Homo sapiens: one gene and its partners. The protein of the gene in region 1 purifies or fractionates together with the protein of each later gene. This does not show direct contact. Each region holds a gene or a part of one and is shown in the gene's direction. Other genes may lie near its edges.

Evidence for each region. The genes of interacting proteins can lie anywhere in the genome.
Region 2: the proteins of OTUD5 (region 1) and ZGPAT purify together in Homo sapiens (affinity purification with mass spectrometry; 3 studies listed by BioGRID, with this or other methods). This does not show direct contact.
Region 3: the proteins of OTUD5 (region 1) and DNAJA1 purify together in Homo sapiens (affinity purification with mass spectrometry, with the first as the bait; 3 studies listed by BioGRID). This does not show direct contact.

The regions. Positions count from the first base shown.
Region 1 is NC_000023.11:48,947,590-48,954,623, reverse strand, and holds part of OTUD5 (OTU domain-containing protein 5), read left to right. Parts: intron 1-7,034. UniProt on the Homo sapiens protein: Deubiquitinating enzyme that functions as a negative regulator of the innate immune system. Has peptidase activity towards 'Lys-48'- and 'Lys-63'-linked polyubiquitin chains. Can also cleave 'Lys-11'-linked ubiquitin chains (in vitro).
Region 2 is NC_000020.11:63,711,005-63,718,038, forward strand, and holds part of ZGPAT (zinc finger CCCH-type with G patch domain-containing protein), read left to right. Parts: intron 1-7,034. UniProt on the Homo sapiens protein: Transcription repressor that specifically binds the 5'-GGAG[GA]A[GA]A-3' consensus sequence. Represses transcription by recruiting the chromatin multiprotein complex NuRD to target promoters.
Region 3 is NC_000009.12:33,035,239-33,040,407, forward strand, and holds the end of DNAJA1 (dnaJ homolog subfamily A member 1), read left to right. Parts: intron 1-1,335; coding exon 1,336-1,451; intron 1,452-1,776; coding exon 1,777-1,877; intron 1,878-3,446; coding exon 3,447-3,665; 3' UTR 3,666-4,669; downstream 4,670-5,169.

The DNA.
Region 1 (7,034 bases):
GGCCCCAAGCCTTGTCTTGAGCTCCTTGTTCTTGGTCCCTTCCTCCCATCATTAATTCTGGCACGATAAGCCATTTGTACTCAAGGGTCAGGACCAGTTATTTCTTCTCTCTCTGGTTGGGTAGTTTCTTTCCTCCTCTAGAAGCAGGGAGCCATACATCACTGGTCCTAGGGACAGAGGAAAAACATCCTATGCAGCCATGATAATTCAAAAACACCTCCTTACTCCCCTCCCTTGCGATACATCCCTGGTCCCAGGGACAGAGAGAAAGAACATCCTATGCTGCCATGGTAACTCAAAAACACTTCCTTATGCCCCTTGCAGTCCCTCCCTTATACTTGTCCCCATAAGAACATAAGAGTAAGCCGGGCATAGTGGCGCATGCCTGTAGTCCCAGCTACTCGGGAGGCTGAGGCGGGAGGATCACTTGAGCCCTGGAGTTCAAGACCTGCTTGGCAACATAGCGAGACCTCATCTTTACTAATAAAAAAAAAAGAATATGAAAATCAAGTTTTGTGGGTTCATGAAACCTGCCCTTCCCAATGACAGGAGAGGCTTTCTGTCCCCACACTTCTTAGGACAAAGAAGGTGATCCTCTTCTCCCTGCCTCACCTGGTCCAACTTGAGAGCTTTTGGGGATGAGAAGAGGGAAGATTCCTCCTGCCACCCCAGTCTTGGTCCTAAACTGTCACTAGGGGTGGTTGTAGCCTGGAGGTCAGTTGGATCCCTTGGGAAGAGAGGCGTCGTTGAGGGGGAGTCTAGATGGCGATTCTGGGGTTCTGACTACTTGGGCTTCCTCTTTGTCCTGATTCTCTTGTATCCCTACTTCCTTTAGGAGTCTTTTTGGCACTCTGGGGTCCAGGTGCTGGGTGGGTGGTGATGTCAGGGGTTCCCAGGCATGGCTGCCTTGCTGAGAGTCTGCTCTATGAAAAGGTTGGCCTGTAAGCATCCTGAGTTTGGAGACCCCACAGAGCTCTTTGAGAAGGGGCATGTGAACTGAGGTGGTGGAAAAAGCTGGGTGTGGCACGGTAGTTGGTGCCTGGGTTCCAACTCTGGGTCTTTCAAGGCTTTGCTGGATGAACCAGGGTAGGTTCTACCTATGCTCTCTGGGCCTCAGTTTCCTCACTGGCCAGGCAAAATGCTGGTGAGGTGTTGTTTAGCTTTGGGATTTTAGGGAACTCAGTCCAAAGTTCTCTGGACCTGGAGGTGGCAAAGAATGGTGGATGTCTTTTGAGGAGGAACTGGGTTTCTCCCCTCTCTTCCTGGCTCCTCTGTTCCCTCTCAGCCATCCAAGCTTGGTGGGCAGGACAAGCAGCCTGTTTTGTGTGAGGCTCAGGGTTGATGAACAGCCATTTTTTGTGGGCAGCCATGTTGTAATGAACAAGCTCGATGGGATTTCCTGTCAGGAGGCCTGTTGGATAGTGGTGTAGAGAGGTAGAGTTGTGTGTGGAGTTTGGGCTTTGGAGCAAGGCAAGCTTTGAGCCATCATCCCTCAATTCTCTCATCACCTCCAGACCTCAGCATCTCCTCCTTACCTGCTTTATAGCTTTAGGCAAACTACTTGCCCCCTCAGCTGCCCATTTTGCAAAAGTTTGTCCATGCCCAGGTGTGTCTGACCTTGCACACCTTGGACCTTGGCCGGTTCTTCCTCTTGCCCAGAATGGGCAGTTTGCCCCAGGGTCATCTTGGTTCTTCCTAGGAGCCTTTGTCCACTCCTAGTAACCTATCTTTGATAGCAAAGGCCCTTCATTTGGCATCTAGGAACCTGCTGATTTCTTGGGCTCTTCTTACCCCAACTGGAATTGGGTAGCTAGCTGGTGGGGAAGCAGGAAGGGGTCTCTGCCCAGGCAACGTGGATTTGAGTCCTGTTTCTGCAGTAAGCTTTTCTGTGGTCTTCAGGCAGTTCTCTTTTCTGGTTCTTGGTTTCTCCCTCCATGAAATGGGTAGTGTTGAGGAGGGAGGTTGGACTCATTGCTCTGAAGCAAGTTATAGTCTCCTCCCTGCTCCCACTCCCCTCACCCTTCATGAAAGTTTTAAGTGGGACCCCTTGGCCTTTGGGGATTGTGCTAGGACATTTCAAGCAGTGTTCAGCGTCCTTGGCTGGTGCTGAGCCCTTGGGTGTGTTTCTTTTAACAACTTTAATGAGATGTAATTCATGTACCATACTATTCACCTCTTTGAAGTGTACAGTTCAGTGGCTTTTAGTATATTCACAGATTTGTGCGTCCATCACATCACTACAGTCCATTTTAGAACATTTTCATCACCTTAAAGAGAAATCCAGCACTCTTTAGCTATGATCCCCCAATTTCCTCATCCCTTTCCAGCCTCTGGCAACCACTAATCTACTTTCTGGCTTGATTGATTTGTCTGTTCTGGATGTTTCATGTAAATGGAATAATAGAATATGCAGTTGTTTGTTACTTGGCTTTTTTCACTTAGCATAATATGTTCAAGGCTTATCCATGTTGTAGCATACATCAGTGCTTCATTCCTTTCTATTACTGAATAACAGGACCTTGGGTTTTTTTGTTTTTTGGTTTTTGTTTTTGTTTTTGTTTTTTTTTTAAGGTGGAGTCTTGCTCTGCTGCCCAGGCTGGAGTGCAGTGGCGCAATCTCAGGTCGCTGCAACCTCCGGCTTCCGGGTTCAAGTGATTCTCCTGCCTCAGCCTCCCAAGTAGCTGGGGCTACAGGCATCTGCCACCACACCCGGCTAATTTTTGTATATTTAGTAGAGATGGGGTTTCACCATGTTGGCAAAGCTGGTCTCCTGAACTCCTGACCTCAGGTGATCTGCCTGCCTTGGCCTCCCAAAGTGCTGGGATTACAGGTGTGAGTCACCGCACCCTGCCAATCTTAGAGGTTTTTAATCCCCCTGCCCTCAGTGGCCTAGCCAAATGTTGGGGCCTTGCTCTTCTCCCCTTCTGCCCTGGAGGGCTTGTGTTGGTCCTTAGAGAGTAGTGTGTCTATGTTCCTCGTTGGATGGGTTGCCTGTGTGTGTTTTTTTTTGAGATGGAGTCTCACTCTGTCCCCCAGGCTGGAGTGTAGTGGCGCGATCTTGGCTCACTGCAACCTCCACCTCCCAGGTTCACACCATTCTCCTGCCTCAGCCTCCCGAGTAGCTGGAACTACAGGTGCCTGCCACCTCGTCTGGCTAATATTTTTGTATTTTTAGTAGAGACAGGGATTCACTGTGTTAGCCAGGATGATCTCGATCTCCTGACTTCGTGATCCGCCCACCTCGGCCTCCCAAAGTGCTGGGATTACAGGCGTGAGCCACCACGCCTGGCCCCCTGTGTTTTGTCCATGGAGCCAGGCTAGTGTTCCTGGGTGCTTTGCTGGAGGGGGTGGTCTTGGCACCAGGGCTGCTGGGACAGAGCTGTGAGTCACAGAATGCTAAACACCTTTTGACCATAGGCTCTGGGAAGACATCTGTCCATGAACTGCCACTGCTGCTGCCATCTTTTGCCCCCCCACCCCACCCCCACTTCAGTGGCAGCTCATCCATCCATAGGCAGGGTCAGTAGTTTCCCAGGGTGAGAAGGGAGATTCCAGGCCCCTGCTGCCTTAATTCTAACCTCCCACCCTGGAGGATGGTAGGCAGGTGGACCTTGCAGAGCGGGATCCATGCCATATTGTCTCACACCTGTGAGGCACTAGGGAACAGACACCAAGGAGTGCTACCAAGGGGGGTGTGTTAGTTTCCTGTGGCTGTTGTGACAAATGTTACCACAGACTGGGTGGTTTAAAACAACAGAAGTTGGCCGGGTGCGGTGGCTCACCCCTGTAATCCCAGCACTTTGGGAGGCCGAGGCGGGTGGATCACGAGGTCAGGAGTTCAAGACCAGCCTGGCCAAGATAGTAAAACCCCATCTCTACTAAAAATATAAAAATTAGCTGGGTGTGGTGGTGGGTGCCTGTAATCCCAGCTACTCGGGAGGCTGAGGCAGAGAATTGCTTGAACCCAGGAGACGGATTGGAGGTTGCAGTGAGGTGGGGGTTGCAGTAAGCTGAGATTGCGCCACTGCACTCCAGCCTGGGTGACAGAGCGAGACTCCATCTCAAAAAAAAAAAAAAAAAAAAAAAGAGAGAGAGAAGTTTATTCTGTCACAATTCTGGAGGCCAGAAGTCCACAATCAGTTTCACTGCATCCAAATCAAAGTGTTGGCAGGGCCACACTCCTTCTGGAAGCTCTCAGGGAGAATTTAGACCTTCTCTAGCCTCTCGTGGCTGCCAACATTCCTTGGTTTATGACTGCATCATTCTAATCTCTGCCTCCATCTTCACCATCGCCTTCTCTGTATATGTGGTTTCCTTTTCTGTCTGTATCAAATTTCCCTCTGTCTCTCTTTTATAAGGACACTTGTGATTGCATTTAGGTCCTACCTGATACTCTAAGATAACCCCCCATCTCCAGATTTAATAATGTAAGTTAATTACATCTGCAAACACTTTTTTTCTTTTCTCTTCTCTTTTTTTTTTTTTTTTTGAGGTGGAATCTCACTCTGTCACCCAGGCGCAGTCTCGGCTCACCGCAACCTCCGCCTCCTGGGTTCAAGCTATTCTCCTGCCTCACCCTCCTGAGTAGCTGGGATTGCAGGCGCCCACCACCACACCTGGCTAATTTTTGTATTTTTAGTAGAGATGGGGTTTTGCCATGTTGGCCAGGCTGGTTTCAAACTCCTGACCTTAGTTGATCCACCCGCCTCGGCCTCCCAAAGTGCTGGGATTACAGGCATGAGCCACTGTGCCCGGGCTTTTCTTTTCTTTTCAGACAGTGCTGGCCTCTGTCACCCAGGCTGGAGTGCAGTGGCGTAATCTTGGCTCACTGCACCCTCCACTTCCTGGACTCAAGTGATCCTCCAGCCTCAGCCTCCTGAGTAGCTGGGACCACAGGTGCGAGCCACCATGCCCGGTTAATTTTTGGTGTTTATTTATTTGTTTTTGAGATGGAGTCTCGCTGTGTCACCCAGGCTGGAGTGCAGTGGTGCTATCTCGGCTCACTGCAACCTTCGCCTCCCAGGTTCCAGCGATTCTCCTGCCTCAGCCTCCTGAGTAGTTGGGATTACAGGCGCCTGCTACCATGACCAGCTAATTTTTGTATTTTTAGTAGAGATAGGGTTTCACCATGTTGGCCAGGCTGGTCTCGAACTCCTGACCTCAGGTGATCCACCCGCCTCGGCCTCCCAGAGTGCCGCGATTACAGGCGTGAATCACCGTACCTGGCCTGTATTTTTTGTAGAGATGAGATTTCACCATGTTGCCCAGGCTAGTCTTGAACTCTTGAGCTCAAAGCGATCTGCCTGCCTTAGCCTCCCAAAGTGCTGGGATTGCAGGCATGAGCCACGACGCCTGGCCCTACCTTTTTCATTATAAGGTAACATTTACAAGTTCCAGGGGGGTTAGGGTTTGATATCTTTGCGTGGCTATTAATCAGCCTACTAGAGAGGCTTTTTTCCCTCCTGGGGAAGGGAAGGGAACTCATTAAGTGGTCTCTTACTGGGCAAAGCCCTGTAATATTTGAGTCTGCCCAGCATCCCTATTATTGGGAGGCTTGGTATCCCCATTCACAGATTGGAAAACTGTGGCTCAGAGCAGTTCATCATCACATGGCTAATAATTGGTGGAGCTAGATTGGAACCTAAGTCAGTTGGGTTCCACAGCCTGCTCCAACTTCACTTGGGCCCTTAGACCACTAGGTTACAGAATCTTGCCTCAGCTCCTGGGATCCTCTGGTGTTAGGGAGCTTTACTCAGCCTTTTTGTGGAGGCTCAAAGATATGGAGGGATTTTCCCATAGGCTCAGCGATGAGTTTGCAAGGTTCACAATCTCCTCAGGCCAGGGCATTGTTGGAGCTTAAACTTATCTATGGCTGAGCTATCCCCTACCCCCCACCCCTACTAGCCCTTCCTGAGCAACATTTTCTCCCCAAAAGGAGAAAGAGAAGGGCCAGAGCCCAAACTCCTCAGGCTGCTGATGACAAAGCCAGTGGGTGGCTAGCAGTCCAGCCTCTAGATCCAAGCCTGGATGCCAGTTTGACTGCCCCAGGACCCAAACCCTGCAGTGCGAGGGGCCTATTCAGGTCTCTTTCATGTTTAGAGACAAACCAGGATATTCTGTGGATGGGCTGCAAGGTATGTCCTCCATGCTGTGGCTCGTGGGGGCCTTCCCTGTTGCCTCTACACTAGGCTTTGCTGGTATCCAAACTCCAGCTCCTTTCTCTTTCTGCCTTTGTTTTTTTGTTTTTTGTTTTGTTTTTGTTTTTGTTTTTGAGACATAGTCTTGCTCTGTTGCCCAGGCTGGCTGGGGTGCAATGGTGCCATCTCGGCTCACTGCAACCTCCACCTCCCGAGTTCAAGCGATTCTCCTGTCTCAGCCTCCCAAGTAACTGGGATTACAGGCACACGCCACCACGCCCTGCTAATTTTTTGTATTTTCAGTAGAGACAAGGCTTCGCCATGTCGGCCAGGCTGGTCTTAAACTCCTAACCTCAGATGATCCTTCCGCCTTGGCCTCCCAAAGTGCTGGGATTACAGGCGTGAGCCACCGTGTCTGGCCTCCTTTCTGCCTTTGTAAAGTGAGGGTAATGTTTCCTGCCACCTGGGCTGTGGTCAGGAAAATTAAACGAGGTCACCCTTTGCATCTGGCATGGGGCAGGTATTCAGTTAATATGAGTTCATCTTTCTTCCTGGTCCTCCCTGCTTACCTGCCTAGTACTACCCAGAACTTTAGCTCTACTGAATTCATTGCTGGGCTCCAGGCATTCCTGGTACTTCGTGGCAGAAGTGACTTCATTTCTCATCCAGTTAACAAGCATTTTTGGAGGTCTTGGTGTTTTAATCCTTTGGTCAGGTGGCACCTCCTCTCAGGTGCTAGCCTTAATGACTGTGTTTCTTTTTTTCTTTTTTTTTTTTTTCCTTGAGACAGAGTTTTGCTCTTATTGCCCAGGCTGGAGTGCAATGGTGCGATCTTGGCTCACCACAACCTCCGCCTCCCGGGTTCAAGCGATTCTCCTGCCTCAGCCTCCCGAGTAG
Region 2 (7,034 bases), on another chromosome or scaffold:
GTTCTAGTTCTTTGAATGTCTTCCTTTTTTTTTTTTTTTTGAAACAGCGTCTTGCTGCTCTGTCACCCAGGCTGGAGTGCAGTGGCACAATCTCGGCTCACTGCAATCTCCGCCTCCCTGGCCCAAGCCATCCTCCCACCTCAGCCTCCCTAATAGCTGATACTACAAGTGTGCACTGCCACGCCCAGCTAATTTTTGTATTTTTTGTAGAGACGGGATTTCACCATATTACCCAGGTCTCGAATTCCTGATCCCTTTGATGAGAGATCTGACACATCCCTGTGGTGCTCCCTCTGGGCCAGGCACTGCTCCAAGGGTTTCATATACTTTCATTCATCTGTGCAACAGCCCTGTAGGTAGGCCCTGCAGTCACACCATCTGACAGAGGAGGAAACAGGAGTAGAAGAACTGAGTGGTCCAGGGCTTCAAGGCTCAGAGGGCTCCGGTTGCCCCCAGCCCTCGTTCCGTCCCCTGCTCCACCCAGTGCTGCTTGCCATGTCGGCATCAGGCCTGATCTGAAAGCTTCCGGAGCATCTTACAGACGTCCACCTTGCCACCATTCAGGACTGATAAGTTCTCTTGGATTTGCGTTGGACCTTTTTTTTTTTTTTAAGATGGAGTTTCACTGTTGTTGCCCAGGCTAGAGTACAATGGCATGACCTCCACCTCCTGGGTTCAAGGGATTCTCCTGCCTCAGCCTCCCAAGTAGCTGGGATTACAGGCGCCTGTCACCACGTGGTGCCCAGCTAATTTTTATATTTTTAGTAGAGGCAGGGTTTCACCATGTTGGCCAGGCTGGTCTCGAACTCTTGACCTCAGGTGATCCCGCCTTGGTTTCCCAAAGTGCTGGGATTACAGGCATGAGCCACCACACCCGGCCCAGGATTTCTTTATATATTCTGGATATCATCCCTTATGAAGTATATAGTTTGCAGATATTTGCTCCCATTGTTTGGGTTGTCTTTTCACTTGATATAGTGTCCTTTGATGCACAAACATTTTAAATTTTGATGCAGTGCAATTTATTGTTTCTTTATTGCCTATGTTTTTGTCATCAGGTTTAAGAAACCACCTCATCCATAGTTATGAGGATTTTCACCTATGTTTTCTTCTAAGAGTTCTGTAGTTTTAGCTGTTAAATTTAGGTCTTTGATCCATTTTGAGTTAATTTTTGTATATGTTATTAGGTGAGGGTCCACTTTATTCTTTTGCATGTGGATTTCCAGTTTTCCCAGCACCATTTGTTTAAAAGACTGCTTTTTCTCCACTGAATGGTCTTGGCACTTTTGTCCAAAATCAATTGGCAATATATGTAAGGGTTTATTTCTGAGCTCTCTCTCCTGTTCCATTGGTGTATATGTGCCAGTACCACACTGTTCTGATTATTATAGCTTTGTGATAAGTTTTAAACTCAGGAAGTGGTAGTTATTCACCATTTGCTCCTCTTTTTCAAGTTTGTTTTGTTTCTGGATCCTTTGCAATTTCATATGAATTTTAGGATCGGCTTGTCCAATTCTGCATAAAAGACAGTTTGAATTTTGATATGGATTGCATAGAATGTGTAGATCTGTTTGGGGCACATTGTCATCTTTACAATATTAAGCCTTCTGGCTGGGTGTGGTGGCTGACGCCTGTAATCCCAGTACTTTGGGAGGCTGAGGCGGGCATATCACTTGAGGTCAGGAGTTCAAGACCAGCCTGGCCAACGTGGTGAAACCCCGTCTCTACTAAAAATAAAAAACAAATTAGTCGGAGGTGGTGCACACCTGTAATCCCAGCTACACGAGAGGGTGAGGCAGGAGAATCGCTTGAACCTGGGAGGAGGAGGTTGCAGTGAGCTGAGATCATGCCACTGCACTCCAGCCTGGGTAACAGAGGGAGACTCCATCTTAAACAACAACAATAACAGAAGAAAAAAACAGTATTAAGTCTTCCAATTCATGAATGAAGGATCTGTCCATTTATTTACGTCTTTAATTTCTTTCAACAGTATTTTGTACTGTTCAAGTCTTGCACATTCTTGGTTAAATAAGTATTATTTTTGATGCTTCTCTAAGGAATTGTTTTTCTTTTCCTTTTTTTTTTGAGACAGAGTCTTGCTCTGTCACCCAGGCTGGAGTGCAATGGCACAATCTTGGCTCACTGCAACCTCTGCCTCCCGGGTTCAAGCAATTCTTCTGCTCAGCCTCCCAAGTAGCTGGGATCACAGGTGCCTGCCACCACACCCAGCTAATTTTTTTTTTTGAGATGGAGTCTTGCTCTGTTGCCCAGGCTGGAGTGAAGTGGCCCAATCTTGGCTCACTGCAAGCTCCACCTCCCGGGTTCACACCATTCTTCTGCCTCAGCCTCCTGAGTCGCTGGGAATACAGGTGCCTGCCACCACGCCCAGCTAATTTTTTGTATTTTTAGTAGAGATGGGGTTTCACCATGTAGCCAGGATGGTCTCGAACTCTTGACCTCAGGTGATCTGCCTGCCTCGGCCTCCCAAAGTGCTGGGATTACAGATGTGAGCCACTGTGCCCGGCTGGAGTTGTTTTCCTTAGTTACATTTTCAGGCTGTTTGTTGCTAGTATATAGAAATACAAGCTGGGCACCGTGGCTCACGCCTGTAATCCCAGCACTTTGGGAGGCCAAGGCGGGTGGATCACCTGTGGTCAGGAGTTCGAGACCAGCCTGGCCAACATGGTGAAATCCAGCCTCTATTAAAAATACAAAAATTAGTCTGGCATGGTGGCAGGTGCCTGTAATCCCATCTACTCAGGAGGCTGAGGCAAGAGAATTGCTTGAACCTGGGAGGCGGAGGTTGCAGTGAGCTGAGATCGCGCCATTGCACTCCAGCTTGGGGAACAAGAGTGAGACTTCATCTCAAAAAAAAAAAAAAAGAAATACAGTGGATTTTTTTATGTTAATCCTGTATTGATTGCTGAATTGGTTTATTAGTGCTAATAGGATTTTTTATGCACTATTTAGGATTTTCGATATATACAATCATATATATTCAATATATACAATTAATATATATGTGAATAGAGATAATTGTAGTCTTTGTTTCTAGTTTGCATGGCATTTATTTCTTTTTCTTGCTTAACTGCCTTAGCTAGAACTTCAAGTACAATGTTGAATAAAAGTGACTAGAGCGGGCCGGGGGTGGTGGCTCACACCTGTGTTCCCAGCACTTTGGGAGGTGGAAGTGGGCAGATCACTTGAGATCAGCAGTTTGAGACCAGCCTGGCCAACACGGCGAAACCCCATCTCTACTAAAAATACAAAAATTAGCTGGGTGAGGTGATGTGCACCTGTAGTCCCAGCTACTTGAGAGGGTGAGACATGAGAATTGCTTGAACCTGGGGGGCGGAGGTTGCAGTGAGCCAAGATCATGCCACTCCACTCCAGCCTGGACGACAGAGCAAGAACCCTGTCTTTAAAAAAAAAAAAAAAAAAAGTGGCTAGAACAAACATCTTTATCTTGTTCCTGATCTTAGGTGGAAAACTTTTTTGTTCCTGATATTAGGTGGAAAACTTTTAGTCTTTCACTGTTGAATATGATGTTACTTGTAGGTTTTCTGTAGATTCCCTTTATCGAGTTGAGGAAATTCTCTTATATTCATAGTGTGTTGAGTGTTTTTTATCATGAAAGGGTGTTGATTTTTTTTTTAAAGATAGGGTCTTGTTCTGTCACCCAGGCTGGAGGGCAGTGGCATGATCATGGCTCACTGCAACCTCGAATTCCTGGGCTCAGGGGATCCTCCTACTTCATCCTCCTGAGTAGGTGAGACTACAGGCATGAGCCACCATGCCCAGCTAATTTTTTAATTTTTCTGTAGAGGTAGGGTCCTGCTTTGCTGCCCAGGCTGGTCTTAAACTCCAGGGCTCAAGCAATCCTGCCTCAGCCTCCCAAAGTGCTGAGATTACAGGGGTGAGTCACTGCACTGCACCCAGCTGTGTGGGATTTTTCAAATGCTTTTTTCCTTTAGATGATCATGTGTGGTTTTTTTCCTTTCATTTTGTTAATGTGGTATATTGATTTTCGTATGTTGAACCATCCTTGAATTCCTCAGATAAAGCACGCATATTCATGGCGTATTATCTCTTTATTATTATTATTTTTGTAGAGATGAGATTTCACTCTGTTGCCCAAGCTGGTCTCAAACTCCTGGGCTAAAGTGATCCTCCTGCCTCAGCCTCCGAAAGCGCTGGGATTATAGGCATGAGCCACTTGGCCCTATCTTTTTTCTTTTTCTTTTTTTTTTTTTTTGAGACAGAGTCTCACTCTGTCGCCGGGCTGGAGTGAGTGGCGCGATCTCGGCTCACTGCAACCTCCATCTCCCGGGTTCAAGCAATTCTCCTGCCTCAGCCTCCTGAGTAGCTGGGACTACAGGTGCCCGCCACTATGCCCAGCTAATTTTTTGTGTTTTTAGTTGAGACGGTGTTTTGCCATGTTGGACAGGCTGGTCTTGCACTCCTGACCTCGTGATTCACCCACCTTGGCCTCCCGAAGTGCTGGGATTACAGGCGTGAGCCACCGCAGCGAGCCTTATCTTTTTAACAGTTAAAAGTTTAAGGCCTTATCATGTAATAACATTGCTGGATTTGATTTGCTGCTGTTTTGTTGAGAATATTTGCATCTGTATTGATAAGGGATATTGGTCTGTAGTTTTCTTTTCTTGGCATGTCTTTGTATAGCTTTGATGCCAGCATAATATTGGCCTCATAGAATGAGTTAGGAAGTATTCTTTATATTATGGGAAGAGGTAAAAAGGGATTGGTGTTAATTCTTCTTCAAATGTTTGATAGAATTCAACAGTGAAGTGATATATACAATCATATATAGAGAGAGAGAGAGAGAGAGAGAGATGGACTTTTCTTTTGTTGGAAGTTTATTGACTATTGATTCAATTTCCTTATTGAAATTGACTTTTCTTTTTGGAAGCTAAAACGTATAACTGTAGTGAAAGTTTCTGAACTTTTCTTTCATTGGAAGTTTTTTGACTACTGATTCTTTATTTGTTATAGGTCTATTCAGATTTTCTGTTTCTTCTTGAGTCAGTTTGGTCTCGCTCTGTCGCCCAGGCTGGAGTGCAGTGGTGCCATCTTGGCTCACTGCAACTTCTACCTCCCGAGTTCAAGTGATTCTCCCACCTCAGCCTCCCCAGTATCTCGGACTACAGGCGCACGCCAGCATACCTGGCTAATTTTTGTATTTTTAGTAGGAACAGCATTTCACCATGTTGGCCAGGCTGGTCTCGAACTCCTGACCTCAGGTGATCCACCCGCCTCGGCCTCACAAAGTGCTGGGACTACAGACATAAGCCACCGCGTCCAGCCTTGAGTCAGTTTAGATAGTTTGCATGCATGTTTCTAGGAATTTGTCCATTTTGTTTATGTTATCTAATCTGTTACCATACAATTGTTCATAGTATCCTTTTATAGCCCTAGTTATTTCTGTAAGATCAGTAGTAATAGCTCCACTTTCTCTCTTGGTTTTAGCAATTTGAGTCATCTCTTTTCTTCCTCTTTTTTTTTTTTTGAGATGGAGTCTCACTGTGTCACCCAGGCTGGAGTGCAGTGGCATGATCTTGGCTCACTGCAACCCCTGCCTCCCAGGTTCAAGCAATTCTGCCTTAGCCTCCTGAGTAGCTGGGATTACAGGTGTGAGCCACCACACCCAGCTAGTTTTGTTTTGTTTTTTTGTTTTTGAGACGGAGTCTGTTTCTGTCTCCCAGGCTGGAGTGCAGTGGTGCAATCTCACTCATTGCAACCTCCGACTCCCAGATTCCAGCAATTCTCCTGCCTCAGCCTCCTGAGTAGCTGGAACTATAGGCGTGCACCACCACGCCTGGCTGATTTTTATATTTTTAGTAGAGATGGGATTTCACCATGTTGGCCAGGCTGGTCTTGGACTCCCTACCTGAGGTGATCCGCCCACCTTGGCCTCCCAAAGTGCTGGGATTATAGGCATGAGCCACCATGCCCAGCCAGTTTTTGTATTTTTAGTAGAGATGGGGTTTCTCCCTGTCGGCCAGGCTGGTCTTGAAATCCTGACCTCAGGTTATCCACCAGCCTTGGCCTCCCAAAGTGCTAGGATTACAGGCATGAGCCACCACGCATGGCCTGTCTTTTCTTCTTGGTCATTTTCGCTAAAGGTTTGTCAATTTTGTTGATCTTTTTTGTTGCTGATCTCTATTGTTTTCCCATTCTGTTTCATTTATTTCCATTTTAACCTTTGTTTCCTTTTTTCTGCTGGTTTGGGTTTAATTTGCTCTTTTTTTCCCCTAATTTTTCAAGGTATACAGTTAAGTTATTGATTTGAGATCTCTTTTTTCTTTTCTTTTTTTTTTTTTTTTTTTTTTTTTGGTTGCTGTTGAGATGGAGTCTCCCTCTGTCACCCAGACTGGAGTGCAGTGGCATGATCTCAGCTCACTGCAGCCTCCGCCGCCCAGGCGATTCTCCTGCCTCAGCCTCCTGAGTAGACGTTTCCCGGCCAAGGTGTTTCTTTTTGAATGTAAGCATTTACAGCTACAGATTTCCCTCTAAACACTGCTTTCACTGCATTCCATAAGATTGTTTTTTGTTGTTGTTTTGTTGTTTGAGACACAGTCTCACTCTGTTGCCGTTTGGAGAGCAGCGATGCGATCATAGCTCTGTAGCCTTGAGCTCCTGGACTCAATCAGTCCTCCTGCCTCAGCCTCCCAAGTAGCTGGGACTACAGGTGTACACCACTGCACCTAACTAATTTCTTTTATAAGTTTTTGCAGAGGCCAGGCACAGTGGCTCACACCTGTAATCCCAGCACTTTGGGAGGCCAAGGTGGGTGGATCACCTAAGGTCAGGAGTTCGAGACCAGCCTGGCCGACAGGGAGAAACCCCATCTCTACTAAAAATACAAAAATTAGCTGGGCGTGGTGGCAGGTGCCTGTAATCCCAGCTACTCAGGAGGCTGAGGCAGGAGAATCGCTTGAACCTGGGAGGCAGAGGTTGCAGTGAGCCAGGATCACACCATTGCACTCCAGCCTGGGTAACAAAAGCAAAACTCC
Region 3 (5,169 bases), on another chromosome or scaffold:
TAGCCAGGCATGGTGGCAGGCCCTGAGGCAGGAGAATCACTTGAACACAGGAGGCAGAGGTCGCGGTGAGTTGAGATGGCGCCATTGCACTCCAGCCTGGGCAAAAAGAGCAAAACTTGGTCTCAAAAAAAAAGACTAATATTTTACAAATGTCTGAAGATAATGGGAAATGTTGTCAAGCTCAGGCTTTTGATGCTGTCATTTGAGAAGGGTATTAAAGATGTTTTATTTATTTATTTATTTTTTTTGAGATGCAGTTTCGCTCAACAGGCCCAGGCTGGATTGCGATGGTGAGATCTTGGCTCACTGCAACCTCCAACTCCCAGGTTCAAGCAATTCTCTCACCTCAGCCTCCCGAGTAGCTGGGATTACAGGCGCCCACCACCACGCCCAGCTGATTTTTGTATTTTTAGTAGAGACGGGTTTCACCATGTTGGCCAGGCTGGTATCGAACTCCTGACCTTAGGCAATCCACCTGCCTCGGCCTCCCAAAGTGCTGGGATTACAGGCATGAGCCACCGCGCCCAGCCTAAAGATGTTTTATTAATGTGGGTTGGAAAAGGAAAGTCTAAGCATGAGAAGGAGGAAGTGGGCTGTTAACGTTAAATATGAAAGGCTGTGTTCACTCACAATATGCCAGGAAATATTATTTCAGGTTCATCAATGAGGAAATTGTTAGAGTCCCTTTAAATTGGACATATCCTCATTGTTTAATTTCATAGAGCCTAAATTATCTAGGACCCTGCCCAGGCTAGAGTGCAGTGGCACGATCTCAACTCACTGCAATCTCTGCCTCCAGATTCAAGTGATTCTCCTGCCTCAGCCTCCCGAGTAGCTGGAACTACAGGTGCGCGCCACCATGCCTGGCTGATTTTTTGTATTTTTAGTAGAGATGGGGTTTCACCATGTTGGCCAGGCTGGTCTTGAACTTCAGACCTTAGGTGATCCACCCTCCTCAGCCTCCCAAACTGCTGGAATTACAGATGCGAACCACAGTGCCTGGCCTAACCCTCACTCTTGTGAGTTGTTTTTTTTTTTTCCCCTCTGAGAAACCAGATTTAAAACTAGGTAATGAAACAGTTCACTGATGGTAAATGGTAAAGGCTGCCTAGAGTGTGTGGAATGACTTTGAATCCTTAACTAGGAAACGGGGCTGGCAGGTTGCACATGTTTGCTCTTCCCAGATCTCTGCTCTGCTTGATTTTTACAATGGGGGAAGAAAAGGGTGTCTTTGTAAAAGACCCTTTGCTTTTATTAAACAAAAAAACAGCCTGCTTTGGTACATCTACTGATTCGTGATTTGAAAAATATAAATATGTGTCATATTTTATGCAGACGAGGAGAAGACCTTTTCATGTGTATGGACATACAGCTCGTTGAAGCACTGTGTGGCTTCCAGAAGCCAATATCTACTCTTGACAACCGAACCATCGTCATCACCTCTCATCCAGGTATGGGAACTAGGCAAGCTTAAACTTCTCTTTTCTATTCTAGTATTTTCCTTGTCTCCTGTTAACAAAGTGTAGTATAGGCACTGAGGGAAACCCATTGTTTTTCTTTCTCGGTTACATATCCTTCTCTGGGCTTAGATGAAGTTATAAGGTCTTGGCTCTCTTGTCAGCCCTTGGAAAACCCATAAGTGAAAGGTAACAGGATTGCTTTGCCACGTAAGTTTTACTCCTGCCAATGAGCTAGGACAGTGCTCTGTTCTTTATATTCCCTGCCTCATAAAAATGTGACCATACTTAAGGAAGAACTTGGCTTCAATGTTTTTAGGTCAGATTGTCAAGCATGGAGATATCAAGTGTGTACTAAATGAAGGCATGCCAATTTATCGTAGACCATATGAAAAGGGTCGCCTAATCATCGAATTTAAGGTAAGCTGTAATGTACTTTAAGAATACTTGAGAACAATTGGCTTACTAAAATCTGATAAAAAAGTAAAATTTCAGCCAGGTGCAAGTAGCTCATGCCTGTAATCCCCGCATTTTGAGAGGCTGAGGCAGGAGGATCCCTTGAGCCCTGGAGTTTTGAGAACAGCCTGGGCAACATAGTGAAACCCTGTCTCTTTAAAAAAACAAAAAAAAAAAAAAATTAAAATTTCTGAATGCCTCAGAACCTGAAACTTACATTTTTCCACAGCAAGAAATATATGGATCTGGCCACGTGCCACTGGCACACACCTATAATCCCAGTGCTTTGGGAGGCCAAGACAGGTGGATTGCTTGAGCTCAGGAGTTAAAGGCCAGCCTGGGCAACATGGCAAAACCCCATCTCTACAAAAAGTACAAAAATTAGCCAGGCATGGTGGCACACACCTGTAGTCCCAGCTACTCGGGAGGCTGAGGTGGGAGGATTGCTTGAGCCTAGGTGGTCAAGGCTGCAGTGAATCAAGATCGTGTCACTGTACTTCAACCTGGGTGACAGAATGAGACCCTGTCTCAAAAAAAGAAAAAAGAAAATTTACCTAATAACTACTTCTGTCATGTTGAGCATTCTTTGTTAACAAGTTGAGGATGGGGTTTTTTGCATCATTAATTGGATATTTAAAGATAGGTTGTGGGAAGGGTGTGTGGGACAAGTGGGTATTTTACTAATGAAAGGTTGTAACTGGCATCTTAAAGTTGAGAGGTGCTTTATAATAATTGCAGATTTCTTGGCAAAATAGTGTAATGCTTGATTTGTTAATAGGTATAAAGCAATCCAGTCATTTTCCTGAGTCTTAAATTGGCCTGTCACCATAAAAATATTAATTAAAACTTTTTTTTTTTTTTTTCCTTTTTGAGACGGGAGTCTTGTTCTGTCACCCAAGGTGGAGTGCAGTGGTGCGATCCTGGATCACTGTAACCTCCACCTCCTGGGTTCAAGCAGTTCTCCTGCCTCAGCCTCCTGAGTAGCTGGGAATACAGGTGCCCGCCACCACGCTGGGCTTTTTAGTAGAGATGGGGTTTCACCATATTGGCCAGGCTGGTCTCAAACTCTTGACCTCAGGTGATCTGCCCATCTCAGCTTCCCAAAGTGTTGGGATTTGTAATCCCAATTGTATGAGCCACCGCGCCTGGCCTAAAAACATCTTTGGTAAGGAAGAACTACCCTTTTGAGAGTAAGAATAGCTTTGTTTAAATATGTCGTAAGAAGGGTTAGGCTGTTGCAGGATGGGTTTTGGTATTAAAAAGTCAGTTTGCTGGATAGAACAATGGTTGTTAAAGTGCAGTTTTATTTAATACAATCATTTTTAATAAAGCCTGACTTCTGGTCATAATCCTTGAACTCTAGTTCAGAGTGTGCTATGCACTGTGCCTTTTTAGAGCCTGTTCTAACCTGAGATTGGCAGATTCACCTAAATATTACGTGTTTACATGTGTTTTTCTGGGGAAAATGGGTCCATGATACTCTAAGGGAGCTAATGATGAAATCAGATTGAACAGTGAAAGTTTCTTTTGAAGGTAAACTTTCCTGAGAATGGCTTTCTCTCTCCTGATAAACTGTCTTTGCTGGAAAAACTCCTACCCGAGAGGAAGGAAGTGGAAGAGACTGATGAGATGGACCAAGTAGAACTGGTGGACTTTGATCCAAATCAGGAAAGACGGCGCCACTACAATGGAGAAGCATATGAGGATGATGAACATCATCCCAGAGGTGGTGTTCAGTGTCAGACCTCTTAATGGGCCAGTGAATAACACTCACTGCTGGCATTTAATGTGCAGTAGTGAATGAGTGAAGGACTGTAATCATAATATGCTCACTACTTGCTCTTGTTTTTGTTTTAATAAACTATAGTAGTGTTTTAAAAAGTTAAATGAAGAATAAACGCAAATATAAAAGCTCTGATTTTGCCCTGTATGTATGATGACTTCAGTGTGCAAGATGAAGTTTAATACCTGTAAAAACTACAAAGAAGTTCCCCTAGCATTTCTAGGCCAAACCTTGTAATTGACTTCAGCTATGTACGTGGACAAGCTTAGACTGAAATGCTAGGTATATGTATTGGCTTCAGTGTATGACCCTTCATTGTTAAGCTATGAAAGTAAAACTCTGTATTTAACTGGCAATGAGGAAAAAAAAATTTTGTAGAGAAGTGTTGGTCTGTATAGTTCTTTATATTAAGTGGGATTCATTGTAATGCCTCTGCATTTATTCTGTTGCCTCAGCTGTTACTTGAAGATGGCGTAATATATAATTTATCCTGTGGTATCAGTGATAAAAATGATACCTTTCTGTAGGAGGGGTTTATCATAATATGCTGCTTCTTGAAGGCTTGCACTTCCAGAATTGTGTTTCCTTCTGCTGTGCCATTCATATATATATACATATATATATATAATCTTGACCAGTCCTGGTCATTTGCTCCCCTCCTTGTCTGTGGACCATGATAAGCCCAAGTAGTGACTTCAGAGCTGGGTAACAGAAATTAAAGTGAAAAGACCTTTACGTGGAGAATTTGCATGCGTAATATAGGAAGGTGTTCTTTAGGTATGTTACAGGATTACTTTAAACCATTTGACTTTCGCTCCAAAGTTATGTTGGTAGTATAGCAAATTATGATGAATAGCTTTAATTGTATGTTTAAAAGTCTCATATGTTCACATGCTTAAATCTGGGTATCAGAATTTAAGCAATTCTTGAAATGTATTGTCTCCTTAATATACTAATTACAAAGCATCTCCAATGTGTGTCACTACAGGCTTTTTTTTCCCAGATCATCAAATTTTGGCTTTTAACTAAGATACATAGCTTTATTTTAGCTAGTCTGAATGAGTGATACAAAAATACTATTGAACTATAGTTAAATAATATTAAATAGGATGGAGAGTAAAAGTGGAGGACTGGGTAATGAGCCAAGAAGAAGGGGACTTAGAAAACTGCAAACATTGGAGTGAGCATGAGAGAACAAGTTCTCATAAAGAATACAAGTTTAAAAAGGAGAAAAACTTTAAAAAATAAGGTTCCCAAACCATCAGTGTTTGTCAACTTCCTTTTAGTCTGTGCCAGCCACCCACAGCTACCCTAAAGTTGGAGATGTGAAGCAGATGTTCAGGAAAGTATAATTGATCGGTGTTCAAAAAAGTGCTTTGTGACAGATTTCACTTTTCACTGGGTTTATGTACAAATTCTAAAAATCTCTGAACCTGTATTTTAATGCATTTAAGAGCATTGTTTAGGCCAGGC